Linked DNA regions of Homo sapiens: all the other regions are reported to be linked to region 1. The links are microRNA targets in miRTarBase. Many come from high-throughput screens and were not tested one by one. Region 1 holds a microRNA gene; each other region holds the end of a gene's coding sequence.
What was found. Region 1 holds the annotated microRNA hsa-miR-4703-5p (UAGCAAUACAGUACAAAUAUAGU, at 3,094-3,116, opposite strand). A microRNA usually pairs through its seed, bases 2 to 8, with sites in the 3' UTR of a target mRNA and lowers its output. Matches are read on the target gene's strand: a 7mer-m8 pairs with bases 2 to 8, a 7mer-A1 pairs with bases 2 to 7 and ends in A, and an 8mer does both.

Region 1 (7,205 bases):
TGTCTTACAGATCTTCCCATATCAATATATATCAATACATATCTTTTTTCCTGGCTGTGTGGTATTCCATTGCATGGGTGGACTGTAATCTGTTAAGCCAGTTCCCTTTTGATAGGCCTTTAGGTTTTTCCCAATCCTTTCTGTTTTACAAACAATTCAGCAGTCCTTTTAAACCTCCCTCCAAGTTTCCTACCCAGCTTTTGCCTACATTTCAAAACATCCTGTCACTCTCATCTCACAGAGAAAACAGAGGCCATTAGATTGAAATTCCATCAATTGCCTGCCTCCCATCAATTGCCTGCCACCTTGTACTGTATATTCCTTCAAACCAGGGTGTGGTTCTCAGAATGAGCCATGTTCTCTCTTGCCTGTGTAGCTTTCCATATGCCATTCCCACTCCCACTATCATTGGTTTGCCCAGGAAACCTCTAGTAATCCTTCAAATTCAAGTGTGGATATCATGCCAGAGGGAGTTAATCAGTTGCTGCTGTGTATTATGACTGAACCTTGTTCTCCTCCCACTGTTGTACTCACTATGCTGGTTTAAAATTTGTGTACGAGTCTATATTCTCATAAGTCTGTGAGCACCTTGAGAGCTAATTCATATCAAGATGCCCAGCACTTAGTATAGTCTGGTAATAGAAGCTATTCAACAAATATTTGTTGAATAAATGAATAAATAATGTGAAGATATAAGCATAAGCTGTAACGACAAGTATTTGCAGAAGAGTAGAATGCGTCTTCAACCTTGCATGCTGTGTTGGAAACAGAATTGGACCAGAAAGCAAGAGACCCAAGGCTAGTTCATAGAAACAGCAAACTCTCCCAACATGTTCATTGCTGTATCCTCCATGCCTAGAAGGGCTGGCTCTTGACTGGTGCTGGCCAAGAACAAAGCTTTGTGTTATATTTGGATTTGAATCTGCTAAAGATGAGCTTTATTGCAAATAGTTTGTAAAGAGAAAGTTAGAATCAGAAGGGCTATAACTTTTGGACTAACTGGAGAGCATATGCAATACCCAGTCATGGATAAGTTATCATAATGCCAGTGAACTTATTAAGTTGAACATGTACAATGAATTGGCTTTTACAAATACATTTTATAGATTAAATTACACATATCCTATAGCCACGGGTTTTTCCAGGTTTGGTGCTAATCACATATTTAATCTGGGAAATGAAACAAAACCTTAATGTTAATCTTGGGTCAAGTGGGGTTCTTGGCTCCTTCCCTGTGCACATTAATGAGAGCACTAGTATGACAATCAGAGCCTGAGCCACCATAGATTTAAATTGAAACAAGCCCTTTACCAAACCTGACCTGTCCCCAACCTCCTGTGGTCACCTGAATGCTAATATGCCCCTGCCCTCTCTTCCTTGTCTTATTGAACAATAGTAACATACACGATAATGTCAGTTCTCCACCAATTTATGAAAACAAGATTCTTTCATCCTAATGCTTCTAATCCAATACAGTGACTCACAGATTGTTTTTAAACTAAGAACAAATCAAAGCTTTAGCTTTACAATTTTTATTTCTACAGTGTTCAATAAATATTTGTTGATTGACTGAATGAGTATTTTGCCATTAATTAGCTCTATAACCTTGGGCCAGTTTCATTTAATTTTTCTATGCCTCATTATTCTCATCTATATAATTGAGTTTGATTAAGTCATATTTTTCAAATTATTTTTATGGTTTAAACGCTTTCTTCAAAGCAAATCTTAAGGCCAGGTGTGGTGGCTCACGCCTGTAATCCCAGCACTCTGGGAGGCTGAGGCAGGCACATCACTTGAGGCCAGGAGTTCGAGATCAGCCTGGCTAACATTGTGAAAACCTGTCTCTATTAAAAATACAAAAATCAGCTGGGGGTGGTGGCACACATCTGTAATCCCAGCTAATCGGGAGACTGAGGCAGGAGAATCACTTGAACCCAAGAAGGGGAAGTTGTAGTGAGCCAAGATAGCATCACTGCACTCCAGCCTAGGCAATTGAGCAAGACTCTGTCTCAAAAAAAAAGGAAAAGAAAAAGAAAATCTTAAGCAGAATCTAGCATTTAAAGCAGAAAAAAGTGAGGCTGCTGTAGATGAAATAGGTTTTGGGGCCCTAAGACTCCTCTTTTCCCACCCCCATTTCTGCTCCTGAGCTGCTTTGCTGAACCCACAGGACCCTCTGAGGTACCATTTGTCCAAGCACTGGACTGAATAGAAATACAAATATAAATAGCATTGACTCTCAGACTTGTAAAAACAAAACAAAACAAAAAACTTATAGTCAACTGGATGCAGACAGTCCCAACCTGCAGCCTCTTAACTCTTAGGAATTAAGATTAACCACCCAGACAAATTAATCTGGTTTCTTTGCTTTGGAGGGTATTACATCAACTCAATCAATGTCAATCAATTTTGTAATGCTAAGCTGAATTGGAAATTATATATATATATTTTTGATAAATTAACAATGAACATGACTATATTAATAATAAACAATGAACATGAGAACATGAACAAACTACTAATGAATATATTTTAGTAGACACAATTTCTCAACATATGAAAATGGGGGGAGGAATAAAGGGGATCCTTGGGGAGTGAAAAGGTTCAGAATCACAATGAATTCCTTTTTCTTTCTTTTCATGCAAATAAAATGAGCCAGAGAAAAGTGAAATGGCTTGCCTAAGCCCTCACAGCTTACTTAGTGGCAGATTCTGCATTGGGACCTGGGACTTGTAATTTCCAGCCCAGTGCTCTTTCACTGACCATGTCGTTTCTTTATAAGGTTAGAACTTTACCTTTATGTTTCTGGAATCCCTGATCACCATGCTACAGAATGATAAAACATCCACATTATCTCAGCATTCATTATCTGAGTCCCTGAAGTCTGAAGCAGTATAGGAGACTAAAAGTCATCATAACCTAGAAACGTTTATTTATCAAATGACTGCTTATAAAAGCCACTCAGTCATATCCACTAAACATTAGCTTTGCTTCCTTCCTTCTAGGAGCAACTTTTTTGTTAGGTAGGTATCTAGCTGATGATTGGATTTTTATACAGAGTGGCAATACAATACAACTACAGTGCAAATCAAACACACTATATTTGTACTGTATTGCTAATATGCATAAAGCAAATCTCGCAAATGGTATAGGATTTTATGGGATTAATAAGAGGAAGCTGAATGCTTAGTCCACAGTGAAAGAGGGAGAAAAATATAGCTGATATTGTTATCGAGTAAAAGGGGCTCACTGTCCAATGCACTAGAAGCCCATACTATGACACCATGTTCTTGAGAAAAGAAAAGCTTTGTACTGAAAGTCAATCCCAAGGAGACAGAAGTCAAGCTCAAATCTGTCTCCCTGTGCTGCCTTCAAAACAGTATTTTTATTAGAAAAGTTTCAGGGGGTGGATTCTGAGATTAGCAGGTGATTGGTGGAAGGAAAGCAGAAGTCTGGAAAGTCCTTGGGCATGCTCAGTTATCTCTTCATGCTATCTCATGTATCACATGTGCAAATTCAGGGGGAGTTGGTATGAAACATAGGGTGGAAATTCAGGCTGCGTTGTCAGCAAGCTCCTTCTGCACCGACTCCAGTTGGTCATATTGGTTCCAAAGGATTTCAGCCATTTCTTTTATCTGATAAGCAGAGGGCATTTCAGCCTTTCAGTAGGTGTTTTTTTTTTTTTAATCTGTCATTCTGCAAACTCAAGAATTTGTTAGTCATTGGTTTCTTTAACTCTTTTGGGCATAGTTTCAGTATTGAAGAGTTAGACAAGGGCCAAATTAGGGAGGGCCTTATGGGTTTCATTAATGGTTTTCATCCTGATTGTCTTTTAAGCAGGAGAACTGTCATCAGATTCACCTCTAAAATTTTCATTTTGAAATTGGCAAATACACTAAAATATATAATCTAGCAATCGTATTTCTGTGATTCTATGTCATAGAGGCATATCCACTTGTAGAAACAACACATGTATCAGGTTATTTATTGTTGTATTATTTGTAAGAGCAAAAAATGGATCTGACTCCCATATTCAACAAAAGGGGCCTGGTTAAATAAACAATGGTATGACATGCAGCTGTCAAAACAAATAAGGAAGCTCTCTATGTAGTGATACATATGGAAAGAGCTTTAGGACATATGGCAAGGGAAAGAAAGCAAGATGTAGAACAGTGTATATGGTAGGCTATCTTTTGTGCAGTAAGGTGGGAGAAAATATATTTGAATATGCTTGTATTTGCCTTAAAAACCCTAGGAGGATTTTAAAAATATATGGGTGGAAGGGATATCATCGGAGGGTTGGGGTGAGAAGTGCAGGAGTGAACGCAAGACTTCTCTGAACATCTCTTTTTATAGTGTGTTAAATTTTGAACCTTGTCAATGTAGTACTTAATACAAACAAATCCATTTAAAAATCACTCTGGCAGCTCTATGGAGAGTGGATTGTAGGGAAATAGAGTAGAAGCTGGAGCCGATTTAGGAAGCCACTAAAGTAGTTCAGGCAATGGCTGAAGGTGGTTGGCACTTACTTGGAGGTAGCGGTGGAGCTGGTGAGAAATGGTGAGCTCAAGCTTGTGGAGCCAACTGGACTTGCTGGTGGATATAGTGTATGAGAGAAAAAAAGAAATAAAGAATAATTCCTAGATATTTGTCTTGAGCAACTGGAGGAGAAGAGAAGATAGAGTGAAGGTGGGAAGAAAATGCAAGGAAAACAGAATCGAGGGTTCTGTTTTGGACACATTTTTAATACTGGCATGCCTGTTAGGTGTCGAAGTGAACATATCTACAACTAGAGAAACATCAAGGAGGATAATGACAGCAGAGATGTTTCCAAAAATAATGAGTTCAAAATTAAAGGATTGAGAGGCCCTGGGAAAAGTTCATAAAATCCTTGAACGTTTTTGTCAAAATGTCCATCTTCACTATCATGCTGTACAAATAAAATATAAAGTGGAGAATGTCATTTGGGCTATTTTAAAATTTCATTGGAAAAATTACATCCCCAAATTCCAATCCATTTATTCTTAGTTCTAACAGGAAGTATGTAGATGTCATTATAGCTTACATTTTGTTACATATGAAGTATAATAAATATGATTTCACAGTTTGTATTGCATTTTTCAAGATAAAGCTTGAATGCAAGCTTTTTCACTATTTACTATAAAATGTAAGTGGCCTTTTTGATATCCTGAACAAAATGCAAAAGGACTGCTATAGTTTGAGTGTGTCCCCTCCAAAATTTGGGTGTTGAAACATAATGGCTCGTGATGGCATTAAGAGTTGGTGCCTTTAAAAGATGATTAGTCTATAGTCTCCTCCCTCAAGAATGGAATTAAGGAACTCATAAAAGAGGCTTCACTTAGCCTTTGGCCCTCTTGTCCTTCCCTTCAGAAGATGCAGCAACTTCTGCATTACCAGACACCAAACCCACCAGAGCCTTGATTTTGGACTTCTCAGCCTCTGGAATTGTGAAAAATAAACTTCTGTGCTTTATAAATTACAGGATAGAATCTTGCAGTGGCAAAAACACAGGGAAACAGATATAACAGAAACATTTTCTCTTCAACAGCAAGTTCACATCTTTATTAACAGAATAACTTTCTACATTTCCTAAATTCATGATGGCAGGAGGTGGAGAGTAACAATTTCTCTTACTTTACTGCCCTAGAAGTTAAATAAGTATTACTTGGTAAAAAATGCAAAACTGCTCTCTTAAGAATTCTGCCGTCAACTACTAATTTTTCTTTTGTGCATTTATCCTGAGTAGGACAGGCTTTGGAAATGTTCCAGTTAATACAAGCAGAGACTTACTGGTTGTAGTGTTTGCTGTGATGTCCAATGTGGTAGTCAGCTAGGGTGGCTATAACAAATTTCTGTAGACTGGGTGGCTAAAACAACAAACATTGATTTCTCATGGTTCTGGAAGCTGGAAGCTTGAGATCAGGGTGCAGGTATGGTCAGGTTCTGGTGAGGACTCTCTTCCTGGTTATGTCCTCACAAGGCCTTTCCTTGGTGCACGAGTGCAGAGAGAGAGAAAGAGAGAGAGAGTGCTTTTGTCTCCTCCTTTTATAAGGGCATTAATCTCATCACAGGGGCTTCACCTTCATAACTTCATTTAAACCTAATTACCTTTCAAAGCCTCATTTCCAAATACCATCAATTGAGGATTAGGGTTTCAACATATACGTTTTGGAAGAACACAAATATTTGGTCCATTGCATAGCACCCAGCCCAGAACCCCCTTCAGGCTGGAGACCCTCATACTCTCTGGTGCAGGGAGTGTTGGCTGCTGACAGGTTACAGCTGAGGCCTCCCAAAGACTTGCCTTCAATGAAGGAAGTGGCCTCTCCCAAGGTCTCCTATCCACAGGGGTGAGGGGGTGGCTACAACAGGGGTGGGAGATGCAAAGATCCAGTCCTCTTGACTCAGTTCCAGACAACCTGAATGAGTCATCCCACCTCCTGAGCGCCCCTCCCCAAGAGGTCACCTCAGGCCAAACTCTGCCGCTGTCCTACTTCCTCATGCCCTCACAAGTGTTTTCTCAATAGACGCCTGCACACAACTCTCTGTCTCAGAATCTACTTCTTGGGAAACCCAACCTAAGACACAAGAAGACCTCATTAACAGCATATTCAAGTAATCAATAATCAAATGATACAGATTTCTCTACATTTTGTGTAGGTTAAGCCACAGTGTAAAAAAAGCAAACATGGTGGATAATGCTCAAAATATAGAATACATGATCAGACACTCCCAGGGCTTGCTGTATGCACTTCGCATATATCACACATACATTCGTGGAAGAGAAATATCTTAGGTCTGTTTGGTACCATATGATTTTGGCTGTCGCAGGAAGTAGTCTCTTTGCTCATTATAACTGATCTCTGAATTCATTACCATAAGAGACTACCAAGTTTTGATCCCATTATGCTAGAATTTATTTTTGTTTCTTAAAGATGTATAACAACAGGGAGCCCAGCTTCAAGCAGGGTATAGTTGGAAAAAATGAAGAGTAAATAAAATGAGTTTGCCACTTCAGCAGAGCTCCTTAAGAATTCCTCAGTATGGATTCTGCGGCTGCATCTAAAATATAGGCCTTTGTTTTTGAATTGATTTATTATACACATAACAATTCCTAGATCATAGATCGTTTCTACTAATTTGTTTCCATCATCAAAACTTATTCAGGCTTCACTTTTTGAGATTCT
Region 2 (7,205 bases), not on the chromosome of region 1:
ATAATGTATTTCATCCATAGCAAGCTATTTATTCTACTTTTAGTGGAAAAAAAAGTCAAACTCTCCCCTCGCCAAACAGCCCCCTTCATATTTATGACTAATATATAGTAACTCATGGTGGGATCCCATTATACCTATTCTCTTCCATACTTAGCTGCTCCCCTCAGACCCACATATAAGCTGGACCATTTGGAACCATCTACTTAAACAAAACCTGTGATTAAAAAAACACGTAAAATCTACCATTTTAACCATTTTAAGTGTACAGTTCAGTAGTTTAAGTATATTCACATTGTTCTGCAACAGATCTCTAGAACTCTTTCATCTTGTAAACTGACGCTATACGCACCAAACAACTCCCCATTTTCACCCCCACCAGCTCTTGGCAACCATCATTCTATTAATACTTTCCATTTCTATGAATTTGACTACTTGATATCTTATATAAGTGGAGCCATACAATAGTTGTGTGTGTGTGACTGGTTTATTTCACTTAGCATAATACTATCAAGGTTCATCCATGTTGTTGCCTGTGATAGGATTTCCTTACTTTTTTTTTTTTTCTTCCCTGAGACAGAGTCTTAGAACAGTCTCTGTTACCCAAGCTGGAGTGCAATGGCATGATCTCGGCTCACTGCAACCTCCGCTTCCCGGGTTCAAGTGATTCTCCTGCTCAGCCTTCCAAGTAGCTGGGATTACAGGCATGCACCACCATGCCTGGCTAATTTTTGTATTTTTAGTAGAGATGGGGTTTCACCATGTTGGCCAGGCTGGTCTTGAACTCCAGGCCTCAAGTGATCCACCTGCCTCAGCCTCCCAAAGTGCTGGGATTACAGGTGTGAGCCACCTGTGCCCTGCTGATTTCTTTCCTTTTTAAGACTGAATAATATTCCATTCTATGAGTATACCACATTTTGTTTATCCATTCATCTGTCAATGAACATTTGGGTTGCCTCCATATCATGGGTATTGTGAATAATGTTGCCATGAATATAGGTTTGCAAATCTCTCTTTGAGATCTTGTTTTCAGTTCTTTTGTGTATATACTCAGAAGTGATGTCTTAGTTCAAGCTGAGATAACAAAAAATATAGTTTGGGTGACTTAACAAAAGTTCATTCCTCACAGTTCTTAAGACTAGGAAGTCCAAAGTCAAGGTGCTGGCCAGTTCAGTTTGTGGTCAAGGCCCTCTTCCTGGTTTGCAGAGGGCTGCCTTTTTGCTCTATCCTCACATGGTGGAGAGAGAGATCATCTCTCACCTGTCTCTCCTTATAAGGGTTTACTGCCACTCATGAGGGCTCCACCCTCAAGACCTAATTACTTCCCAAAGACCACAGGGCTTCAACATGTGAATTTTGGGGGAATGCAAATATTCAGTCCACAGCAAGTGGAATTGCTGTATCATATGGGAATTCTATTTTTAACTTTTTGAGGAACCTCCATCGTGTTTAAGTGGTGATTATCATTTTACATTGTTACCAATGCCACATAAGTGTTCCAATTTCCCCACATCCTCACCAACACTTGTTATTTTGGGAGTTTTAAAAATAGTAGCCACCCTGATGAGTGTGAGGTAATGTGTCTTTGTAATATTGATTTACATTTTTTATAATTAGTCAGGCTGAGCACCTTTTCATAATTTTTGTTTGTTGGTCATTTGTATTATCATCTTTGGAGAAATGTCTATTCAAGTCTTTGGACTTTTCTTTTTTTTTTTTTTTTTGGAGATGAAGTCTCGCTCTGTCACCATGCTGGAGTGCATGGAGTACGGTGGCGCGATCTCAGCTCACTGCAATCTCCGCTTCCCAGGTTCAAGCCATTCTCCTGCCTCAGCCTCCAGAGTAATCCCAGTGGGTTACCGGTGCACACCACCATGCCCAGCTAATTTTTGTGTAGAGACGGGGGTTTTCCTATGTTGGCCAGGATGGTCTCGATCTCCTGACCTCATGATCTGCCTGCCTCGGCCTCCCAAACTGCTGGGATTACAGGCATGAGCCACCACTCCCAGCCCCATTTTTTAGTTATTTGGTTTTTTGAGTTGTAGGAATTCTTCATATATTCTGGATATTAACCTCTTATCAAATATATGATTTGTAAATATTTTCTCCTATCCCATAGGTTGCCTTTTCACTCTGTTGATTATGTCCTTTGATGCACAGACATTTTTAAGTCTGATGTAATTCCAATGGTCTTTTTTTCTTTTGTTGCCCATAATTTCTGTGTCATATCTAAGAAATCATTGCCAAATCCAATGTTGTGAAACTTTCCCCGTGTTTTCATCTAGTTTTACAGTTGTCAGTCTTACATTTAGGTCTTTGAGTTTTTTAATATATAAGGGTCCAACTTCATTCTTTTGCATGTGCATATCTAGTTTTCCTAGCACCATTTGTTAAAGAGACTGTCCTGTCCTTATTGAGTGGTCTTGGTACCTTTGCTAAAGATGATTTGGCCATATATGTGAGAATTTATTTCTGGACCCTATTCCATTGGCCTGTATGTTTGACTTTGTGCCAGTTCCACATTATTTTGATTACTGTTGCTTTGCAATATGTTTTGAAATCAGGGAGTGTGAGACCTCCAACTTTGTTCTTTTTCAAGATTGTTTTGGCTATTCAGGGTCCATTGAAGATTCTAGATGAATTTTGGCATGGAATTCTCTACTTCCGTGAAAAATGCCATTGGGATTTTGATAGAGATTGCATTGAATCTACAGGTCACTCTGGGTGACCATGAGATGTCTTTCCATTTATTTGTGTCTTTAATTTCTTAGTAATGCTTTACAGCAGGGGTCCCCAACCCATGGGCCATGGACCAGTCCTAGTCTGTGGCCTGTTAGGAACTGGCTGCACAGCAGGAGGTGAGTTGTGGGCAAGCAAGCATTACTGCCTGAGCTCTGCCTCCTGTCTGATCAGCTGCAGCACTGGATTTTCATAGGAGCTTGACCCTATTGTGAACTGTGCATGTGAGGGATGTGGGTTGTGCACTCCTTGTAAGAATCTAATACCTGATGATCTGAGGTGGAACAGTTTTATCCTGAAACCATCCCCCACTGCACCGTCCACCCTGGGTCCATGGAAAAACTGTCTTCCATGAAACCAGTCCCTGGTGCCAAAAAGGTTGGGGACTGCTGCTTTAGTTTTCAATGTGTAAGTCTTTTGTCTTAGTCTGTTCAGGCTACTGTAACAAAATACCTTAGACTGGGTAATTTATAGATAACAGAAATTTATTGCTCACAGTTTTGGAGGCTGGGAAGTCCGATATCAAGGATTTAGTGCCTAGTGAGTGTTTTCTTCCTCACAGATGGCACACTCTAGCTGTGTCCTTTCATGGTAGAAGGGGAGCTCCCCAGACCTCTATTAAAGGGCACTAATCCCATTCATGAGAGCAGAGCCCTCTTGATCTTATCACCTCCCAAAGGCCTACTTTTTTAATATCACCACATTGAGGATTACATTTCAGCATACAACATACATCAACATACAAATGTAGGGGAAGACACAAACATTCAGCCATCACATATCCCCTTGGTTAGGTTTATTCCTAAGTATTTTATTCTTTTTGATCCTATTGTAAATGGAATTGTTAAATTTTTTTGGATCATTCATTGTTAGTGTATAGAAATACAACTGATTTTTGTGTGCTGACTTTGTATCCTACAACTTTGCTGAATTTATGCTTCCTCTTGATCACACCATCCTCTGCTGGGGAAGAGCTAGGGTGAGCAAAATCCACAAACTTTCCTAGCCTTTTGGTGCGGCCTTTTCCTGGCTTTGCATTTGCCTAAATGCTGCAGTTTCCCAATTGGTTTCTAGAGTTCTCACAAAGATATTCTGGCCCATATATTGTTAACTCAGCGTCTCTGGGAGAATGAGGACGTGGAGTTCCCAAGTCCATCATCTTGCTGACATTACTCCCATCTACCAGTGTTAGCAAAAAACTAGTATGATGATTCATATATGATATTCACATATACAAATATGCTAGTAACATTTCTGATTCATGTATGATATTCACATATATGAATATGCTAATAAAATTTCAGAGTATATTGATAAAAAGTGCTTATCCAACAAGTTTTACTTATCTACTTATCTCCTGGTGGTCTGTATCAAAATCAATCTCATTCTTAGAGATGATAAAGTTTGGCCTAATAAAAAATTTTCCCAAATACGGCCAAAACAACTCAAGATTTTAACTCTTGAATCCTGGGACCCTCAACCAGAAATCTTCTCATGATTATTTTAGAAGAAAATTTTCCTCTGGTTGGGGAAGGTTTTGATATCCCCAGTGTAATGTACCTTCCCTAATTATTTTGGAAACTACTGGTTTCAAAGATTATATAGTAACATTAGAAATCCTGTGTGTTTAGTTTTGAGAAAACACTCCAACAGGAAGCACCTGCTAAATGGAAGGCATTGAAACATTAACTTTGTATCACATGCACTTTTATTACTTTAGGTATAAACATATTTTTTAACTCATTAAAATTTTGATTTCAATTTCTAAGTGATTATAAGTTCCAGTGGACTAAATGCATTCTAGTTGATCTTGTTTTGTGATCACTCTACTGCTGATTAGAATCTCTACTAGAAATTTTGTATTTTCAAGAGGAGGAACAAAGAGCAGAAATGGGATAAGTAAAATTTTAACTATCTTCTTGGGTTCAATTGTATTGCTCTGGTGAGAGAACTCAGCAGCAGGCAGAAGAGGACAAAGGCATGATGCATATTCAATGAGTAATGCACTTATAAGTAAGTTTCTTTAAATATAAAACATATTGAAGATAATAATACTCTATTCCTAGCTAAGGTTATAGTCTTGTCTTCTCATGAGAGTAAATATCCTTGAGGACAGGTACCACCTCTGTTCAAAATTGATCCTTCCCAACCCCTACTTCCACACTACCCCATACATTTGTAGGCAGGCACTAGATTGAGCTCAATAAATGTTTTGAGGAGTAACTAACAGAGTTATCATCACAACAGCTTCAGTTAAACTTAGAGCTATTTCTACTTGTCTGATGAGTGTCATTTTTTGTTCTGTAGTCTCTCCCTAATGAATCCTTCTTTTTAGTAATTCTTAAAATTCTATTGGAACTCTAAAACAGTTGAAAAGAGAGCAGGCATAGGGCCATACCAGTCATTTCCAAGATAAAAATGGTCTCAGATAAGATTCTAAAGAAAGTCCACTCCTCTTTGTATGTTTCAAAATGGCTTCAAGTGTTGTTTTGCCATTTAAGTGTGAATGTACTTGGCTTATGAAAGTAGATAGAAACTCAAAATTATTACTAATAGTGAAGTCATGATTTTTTAAGAGATTGAGACAGCAAATAAAATTGGAGAAAAATTCTTCTTTATTTAAAAATACCAGTAATACTGACAGACTTCAAAAGCAATTCACGCTTCCAGAATACAAAGTACTTAATACATATTTTCAAACCTGTTTGCATTTCAAACAAAGTTAGCGTTTTTGTAAATCAAATTTGATAACCCGACTAAAAATATTTTCCAGCTTTATTATTTAAGGAGCTGCACAGCCTTTAAAGTGGGGACCAGGAGGCAGGCAGAGGCAGAGAGACTGAATGCACCCAGGACTGCGCAGCAGTCTACAGCAACATGTCCCACAACTTTGGTGCTGGAAACACAAGTAATGCACAAGACAGCTGCCCTCCAGTGTCAGGATCCTGTGAAACAGCATATCAAAAGATCGCCAGCTTCTTATAATTTACACACTTTCATTTAGGATTGCTTTTTGAAGAAAATCTTTAAGAATGCCATTTTAATTTAATATCCAGAACCCTGAATTTAAAAAACTAATGAAAGAAATTAACTGTTACCATCAAAATGGTTGTTGCTGAGCTGTGTGAGTAGGAATTCTATGCTTTTTTAGATGCAAGAAAATTAACACATAATGCAAGTTTAATTTGAAATCACACAAGTTATGTATGTAGGCTCAGATAGTAGCAATGTTCACTTTTATTACTAATAGCTTAACTGAAACAGCCATCTATTCATTCCTCCAGCAGGAATAGCAGCACCAAGATCTTCTAAAATTCTTTACATATAAAGCTTAAGTCATTATCCAAGTCCCATTCTTTGCATGCTCCAATTCTTGTTATCTTATTTAACATAAAAGCAACAGGATTTGGAGAGTTACTATTTGCTGTATTAAAACAGTTACACAGCATCTTGTACTGTCAAAAAGCAAAATACTGTGAATGGCAGCCTGTCTTCACAGCTCTAAACTTGAAGCTGCCAAACAGTCACTGCTTGTGCCAGCAGTGGTTTTCCACAGAAAAATAGCAGAAACTAAAGGAATCATGGCACAATGGATTTCTGAATTATTTTGTCTACCATTGGTCCTGGGGCTTAGTACCTTCCCCCTTGTAGACTATATCTGCTGATCATTCCAGAATCATCTTTAATGAAGGAAAGGCATCAGGTCATATAGCGGGTAATGGCTCTCAGAGCATAAAGGAGTTCTGCTTGCATCCTAGCTTCTATAAGAAGCAGATTAACATGAACCTGAATATAAAATACAACATCATATAAGGAAGGGTTACAAGCATTCACAATCAGTTTTTCAGTGAATCTAATGAACACATAAAATAAGTACACTTCCTACACTTCCTATGTAGTACAGCATAACTTAGCCTTGGGTTTGTTGAACAGATTATAAATTTCTCAAAACAGCAGCTATCTTTTTTTTTTTTTTTTGATGCACACTTTCACTCTTTCCCAGGCTCGGGTGCAGTGGCACGATCTTGGCTCACTACAACCTCCACCTCCTGGGTTCAAGCGATTCTCATGCCTCAGCTTCCCATGTAGCTGGGAATACAGGTGCATGCCACTATGTCCAACTAATTTTTTGGTATTTTTAGTATCACCATGTTGGACAGTCTGGTCTTGAACTCCTGATCTTAAGTGATCAGCCTGCCTTGGCCTCCCCAAGTGCTGGGATTACAGGTGTGAGCCACCATACCTGGCCTAATATTCTTTTTGGATAGATTGAGCTTTCATTTATATTTTATCATGTTTCTTGGAGGTTTGTTACATGTCAGAAAATCTAGACACTGTTTTATCAGAATAGCAACTTCCCCTGCCAAATCATTATTCAGTAATTTCTATAAAGATGTTTCAAAGAGAACAGACACTTCTACCTATACACAGCTTTTATAAAACAGTCTTCTATGTGCTGACAGCCATGC
Region 3 (7,205 bases), not on the chromosome of region 1:
GTTTCTATTGGAAAAGAAACAATTCTGAAGCAGTTAAACCTTGAGAGATAATACAGCTGGTGTTGACTAAGGCCTTGATAAGTGCTGGAAATTTTGCATAACTCGGAATAAACTTACCTGTTCTGAGGACTTGATAGTACTTTTCATACATTTTGCAAAATAAGCCTGTTATCTCGACCATTTTGTAAATGCCTCATAAGAAGCCAGGCGCTGTGGCTCACACCTGTAATTCCAGCACTTCGGGAGGCCAAGGTGGGAGGATCGCAACAGCCCAGGAGTTTGAGACCAGCCTGGGCAACATGGCGAGGCCCTGGCTTTATGAAAAATGAAAAAACTTAGCTGGGTGTGGTGGTGCCCACCTGCAGACCCAGCTACTCGGAAGGCTGAGGTGGGAGGATCACTTGAGCTTGGGAGGTCGAGGCTGCAGTGAGCTATGATCACTCTAGTCTAGGCCTGTCGTTCATGCATTTATTCATTTATAAACCAATAAATAAAGAGAGAGTACTAGATATTTGAACCCCTAAATAATTCTATTATTGATACTTTTGGGTTCTTAAAGACTTTCAATTATATTTTCTTTAAGACTTCCCTGGCTTTTTGTAACCTTTCAGAGTACATCACTTCATTCCACTAAATGTTACACTGTTATTTTACTCAGTCCTTTCTCAGTGAAGCTTCTAGAACTACAGTGGTCCCTTGGTATACAGGAGATTAGTTCCAGGACCCCTGAACTAATGCACATACCAATATGCACACATAGTCAAGTCCACAGTCAGCCCTGTGGAACCCACATATATGAAAAATCAGCCCCTCCCTATACGGAGGTCTTTACATCCTGTGAATACTGTATTTTCCAGCGGCATTTGGTTGAAAAACTTTCTCATATAAATGGATCTGTTGTTCAGGGTCAACTATAATCTAAATTTATGGTTTATTTTCTCATTCTTTCCTTAAACTCCAGAAAACTGGTCTCATTTTTATTCTGAAACTGCTCTTGAAAATGCCACAAGAAAACAACACCAACACAAAAACGCCGCAAGACATACGGCTATTTTTCAACTCTAGTTCGTTGAATTTCTCTGTAGCATCTGGAATTGTGCATTACTGAGCTCTGGAGCCAGATGGCCCTAGGTTTATTCCAGCTCCCCCGCTTACTAACTATATGGATATGGGCAAGTCTTCTCAACTATCCTGGCTTCATACTCTTTACATGTGAAAAGAGGGTTAATAGTAGTACTCATGTTGCTCTCAATAAACAGTAATAACAGTAATAAATTACCATTCTTACTACCAACCCTAAGCTTCCACAACACTGTTCTCTAGGTGTCCCTCTTACTCTGTGACCCTGCTCCATCTATCCCTTAACTGATTAATCCTTAAGATTCCATCCTTGGTCCACTGCCCCTTTCCTCCCTTTTTGGATGGTTTAATTTGGAATCATTTTTCTGATGAAATGTTTCAATGCAAAAATCAGTGGATGTTGATCATTCCCAGACTTCTATCTCCAGGCATTTTCTGGAGTTTCAGACTGAAATCATTTCCCCCAGCCCACCTTTCCCCCTTCTTCTAATTTCGATTTCAATTGGTAGTTCATCATCTACTCAATCACAAACCAAAAAAACCAAAAACCAAGGTTCATACTACATTTCTTGTTCTAATATACTCCTATAATATTTGCCTCCGACATAATTCTCAAATCTGCCCCTTCTATACCCTTACTATGTCTACCACATTAATTTAAGCTCTACGCTTCTGATTCCAACCTTTGCCCTCCTCCTTGAGTCTATCCCCTACTCTTGAGCCAATAATTTACACAGAGCCAAACTTGAATATGCCGTGTTATTGGTATACTACCGTACACAAAGTAGCTCCAAGTTACTCAGGACGGCATGGAGAGCCCTCTATTACCTGACCCCTGCAATCTTTCCAATTTCTGCCAATTTCCACCCCATATAAGCAATACAGAAACACCATGCTCTCCTAGTACCCACACATAATTTTCATTATTATTTATGCTACAATTACCTATGTTTCTGGCTCTGTCACTCAGTCCATGCTGAGACATTTCTCAAGCCATGGACTTTCTACCTCAGCCCAGCACAGTGCTAGAATATAGCAGACACTCATTTTTACTGAACTGAACTACAGGCCTTTCTTCTTCTTTTTTTTTTTTTTTCCCTGAGATGGAGTTTCCCTCTGTTGCCCAGGCTGGAGAGCAGAGGTGCAATCTCGGCTCACTGCAACCTCTGCCTCCCGGGTTCAAGCCATTCTCCTGCCCCAGCCTCCCAAGTAGCTGGGATTACAGGCGTCCGCCACCAAACACAGCTAAGTTTTGCATTTTTAGTAGAGACGGGGTTTCACCATGTTGGCCAGGCTGGTCTTGAACTCCCGACCTCAGATGATCCGCCCACCTTGGCCTCCCAAAGTGCTGGGACTACAGGCTGAGTCACCGTGCCTGGCCAGGCCTTTTTTCTTCTTGAAAAAATTATAACTCAATTTAACAAATACCAATCATTTTAAGAGGTTTTTTTCTCCCCGACCCAAATTCCTAGGAAACATTTTTTTTTTCTTCCCTATCTATTTCTGCCCCCGGCCTCTTTATTACATTTAGTGGGCAGGGAATGATTTACTGTGGAAGTTCTCATACCAACAGTTATGTTTACTCCAACTTATAACCGCACATCTGCAGGTGACTAAAATTGTGCAAGCGGAAAGTGAGTTCAAACACTGACATGCATACCTGTTTGAATCAGTGATTTGAACCCTAGGAATACATTAGTGTATACAAATATGGAAACCACAGGGAAAAAAAAAGCATTTCTAGTTATTACTATGATAATGAAGAATGAGAAAAACAAGAAAAACAGGAAAATAAGAAGTCATAAAATGCTAAGTATTCTGTGATGAATGTACTTTTTCATTCAGGTAAACTCATTTTTTTATTTAGGTAAAATACAAATAAATACCTAAATTTTATTTAGGTAACCCTCTCTGTTAAAAAACAAATGGATCAAATGCTATCCAAATTACCTAAAGTGGGAGGCGGGGGTATGATTAAATAATATAAACATATTTAAAAACTATTTTCAAAAGGATGTAATATAGGTAGACAAAGTATCCAGAAAGATACAATGGGCACAACCTAAAAATATTTAAGTCTAAGGATGGAGGTAATCTGGGCACTGGGAAATCAATTAAGTATATATAGAAATGATTCAAATGCCTTCCCTCAGCAAGAATTTGCCTATTCTATGTCTACCACAGTTGGACACTAGATTAGTTTGGATCTACAGCAAGAAATAAAAATGATAGTGGTATATCTTTAATAGTTTTCATAGAGAATACTGACATCCTATTCTAGTTCCTAGTAGTAGGAGGAAACAGAACATTAACTAAAGGTACTGTCTGTCTCACTGTATCCGTTTTAAGAGATAACAGTTTAAGATATCATGTTAAAAATTCTCTCCTAATATTTTTCGCTTGTTTCTCCAAGAAATTCTCATATGCCCTATATTCCAGTAAATCATTATTTACAAGTTAAGGTTAAGAATGCATATAAGATCAAAAGATACTCTCTATACAAAACCTAAGAACTTTAATATAACAATAAAACTAACTGGTGGTTTGAAATATCCTGTTTCTAGAGAACTTGATCTATGTTCAAGAGAAAAAACTCAATTCTTTTATGGTTTCAGAATGGGGAGAGGCGGGGGAGGAACAGCAAACGCTGGTAAGGTTCCAGAGAAAAGGGAACACTTATACACTGTTGGTGGGAGTGCAAATTAGTTCAACCATTGTGGAAATCAGTATGGCGATTCTTCAAAGAGCTAAAAGCAGAACTACCATTCGGCCCAGCAATCCCATTACTGGGTATACATCCAGAGGAATATAAATCACTCTACCATAAAGACACATGCACGCATATATTCACTGCAGCACTATTCACAATAGGAAAGACACGGAATCAACCTAAATGCCCATCAATGACCAACTGGATAAAGAAAATGTGGTACATGTACACACCATAAAATACCATATAGCCATAAAAAAGAATGAGATCCTGTCTTTTGCAGGAACAAGGCTGGAACTGGAGGCCATTATCCTTAGCAAACTGACACAGGAACAGAAAACCAAATACCACATATTCTCACTTATAAGTGGGAGCTAAATGATGAAGACGCATGAACACAAAAGAGGGAAACAACAGATAGGGGTCTACTTGAGGGTGGAGGGTGGGAGGAACTAGAGGAACAGAAAAGATAACCTTCGGGTGTTGGGCTTAATACCTGGATGATGAAATAGTCTGTACAACAAACCGCTGTGACACAAGTTTACCTGTATAACAAACCTTCACATGTACCCCTGAACATAGAAGTTTTTTAAAAAATAATAATGTTGGGGGAAAATCTAGTTTGAAGCAGGAGCTGCAGATTTCAGAACTATCAGGGCGAAATGTATCATTTGTGTTCTTACATCCTTATATTCGAAAAAGCAATCTATTAACCGTAAAGATAAATCAAAATATTTTTCAAAAGAATGAAACCTGTATTCATTAGCTATATTGTGGAGTCTGAGGCTACAAAACAGATCAAAGCAAATACTAAATATAAATACATCCTAAGATATGATACATTTAAAATATGAAACCTTGACAATTTTAATAGGAAATCCTATATAAACATAATTACTTAACAGTTTAAAGAAACCAACACAACATTCAAGACAACTTAAAACCTTAACTTACTTTAATGATAAAACACTTGAAATTGTCTTCAAATTTGAACATTTTAAAATAATTGTAAATGTTAGCTGAAAAATAAACAGGTAAAGTTAAAAGGATCAATGTGGGTTTTCAAAGATGGTTTTAGTATTAGAAGAATGTGCTTATCTCAGTAGCAAGTAGATTATTTTAAATGGCATGACATGAGTTGATTCTTTAAAAAAGCCCAATTTAGTAGAAAGGAAATACAATTTCTCTTTTGATAAACATATTTATATTTTCAGTTACTTCCTTTTTTAAAAAAAGTCCCCCAATCTTAGGAAGAATGGAGAAGCAAATAACAAAAAAACCCTAAAAACATTTTTGCCTAGTATGTGTAGCAACAGCTACACCCAGTGGCCAGAGATGAGTGGTGACGGTTTCTAGCTATATTATTATAAAAGGAAAACCTGGAAAGAGCCATTTTTCCATTTATTTAAGGTTTTAGGATAAAAGTCACCTTTCACTAAAATTAGGTTTTAAGGAAATACTCAAGAATCTTTGGGAACAAAAGCCTTAGCTCATCAGCTTGACGCAAGAGTCCAGAATAATTCAGTAGCTAAAATAAAACTCAAACCAAAGAGAGAACTTAACAGATACTTTATTGCTCACCTTTCACACAAAGCACACCTCCAGCCATTTTCTTTCACAGCTTGACAATGTTTACATGTACAAAAACCCAGCAAGAAGCATCATGTCATGTAGATTTCAGTAAGGGAGAATGTAAAACATCAACTCAGCCAGGCTTTTGTTTTCTGCAGCAATAATAAAGGGCCTCCTGCACTTAGCAAAAATCTGTCTTAACTTTGTAGTGCATTTCTTCCATTACAAAAAAAGTTACCTGCTTAAAGCAAACTAACTTGTATTTGCTGAGCCAGTGGTATTAACTCATGCATAAAACAAATTTCGGTTTGCTATTTCTTCTAGCAAATTTCAAGTAAAAATAAGGTTGAAGGAGGAATTTGTTTTGGATGGATGCAGGTCAGTTTGAATTGCTATACTTAACTAAATGCCTACATGTACTATAGCTTCACAACTTAGTTTGCTTTTATAATCTTTATGGATTTTGGCCGTGTTCAAGGTTTTCAGAGTTGAGCATATGATACAGTATTCCATCAACAAAATAAGGCTACTGAATGTGCTATCTGCAAAAGAGCTCATTTAATAGGAACTGACCTAAAAGTTCCATCATGAAGCACACGTGGCATAAAAGTCAACCGGGGGGCAGAACTGTGCTTGGAAAATAGGCATTGGAATACTTTAAGCAAAACACATATAAATGGTTATTCATATGAGGAAGGTTTCCTAGTAGTAAATCTAAAAAAGTCTAGGTGAATCCTCATTTTCAAAACTGCATATTGAAAACATGAAAACTACTTATTCAAGTAATTTCTTCAAAAAAGTTTGCATGTTCTGACTGTGGAATTAGTCTACTGGGCAATTAAAGGCAATTTTAACCACCTTTTAAAAAATTTTTCATAGAAAGGAGAGATGTTATGTGTTTCTCAAATAAACGGCATTATGTAAGTCCAATAAAAAAATCTAACAGAATTGAATGAAGACCTACAAATGCTTATGCCAAGCAGGAATCTGCCTGCCACCTGTGGTCTCACATTAATTCAAAATAGGTGCTGAATTCAGGATTCTGAAACTAAGTTTCTATTACTTGAGCTCTAGCAAAATGTAAGGTTCGGTAGCCTCAACTAGTGTAATGTCTTCCCTGTCCAAATCCAGAATGATTATACTGATAACCTCCATGCTGGAAATGCTGTTCAAATTGACCCCCTTGGTGATAATTCTGGCTCCCTCTTCCTCCCCAGCCTCCTCCCTGGCCTGCACGACCACCTCGGCCTCCACGACCACCTCGCCCACCACGACCACCACCACGATCACCATGGTGCCCGCCATCTTGGTATCTATTGTCCTGCTGGTAGCCACCACCCTGGTATCCACTTCCTGTATATGAAGAAGATGTTTGGAAGCCACCATAACCTCCGCCTTGATAGCCACCACTGCTGTGGCCACCATGATAGCCACCTGGCTGGAAACCTGAATCTCGATAACCACCATCTTGGTAGCCACCTCCTCCACCACTCCCTCCATCTGTCCAGCCTCCTTGATGCTTATTTCCTCTTCCTCCCCCTCGGCCACCATGGTCATAGCCACCACGTCCACCTCTCCCGCCTCCTTGTTCATGACCTCCTCGTCCTCCGTATGAGGAATGTTCATAGCCACCTCTCCCTCCTCCTCGGCCTCCTGTTTGCTGCTGGGGGCCATCTTGCCTCTTCTGCCACGGTGGCATCTCTGGGGGTGGAGGTTCGATTTCATTGGGTCTACCACCTCTGTCAGGCACCCTGCCCATCAACACCTACAGAATAGGAAAGATATTTTAAACTTTTATTTTATGAACAGAAATAAATGCATTTGGAAAAAATTAAAGGTACTC

Region 2: the mRNA of SESN1 is a reported target of hsa-miR-4703-5p. Seed matches in the 3' UTR shown: 7mer-A1 at 5,959-5,965.
Region 3: miRTarBase lists FAM98A as a target of hsa-miR-4703-5p. Seed matches in the 3' UTR shown: 7mer-m8 at 5,519-5,525.

The regions. Positions count from the first base shown.
Region 1 is chr13:51,548,510-51,555,714 of GRCh38, reverse strand. MIR4703 (microRNA 4703) reads right to left here and starts at 3,126; the gene lies at 3,048-3,126. LOC124903175 (a long non-coding RNA gene) reads right to left here and starts at 6,591. Exons shown (of 4, transcript XR_007063804.1): 1 at 6,485-6,591; 2 at 5,809-6,005; 3 at 4,527-4,590; 4 at 3,564-3,632.
Region 2 is chr6:108,981,109-108,988,313 of GRCh38, forward strand. SESN1 (sestrin 1) reads right to left here. Exons shown (of 10, transcript NM_014454.3): 10 at 3,201-6,522. The coding sequence ends at 6,436. It also overlaps a transcript of ARMC2 not described here. Among named protein-coding and RNA genes, the nearest start is that of ARMC2-AS1, 61 kb to the left of the region's middle. RefSeq lists a silencer at 1,105-1,305.
Region 3 is chr2:33,578,318-33,585,522 of GRCh38, forward strand. FAM98A (family with sequence similarity 98 member A) reads right to left here. Exons shown (of 8, transcript NM_015475.5): 8 at 5,343-7,127. The coding sequence ends at 6,459. Among named protein-coding and RNA genes, the nearest start is that of RASGRP3-AS1, 12 kb to the left of the region's middle. RefSeq lists an enhancer at 5,132-5,951.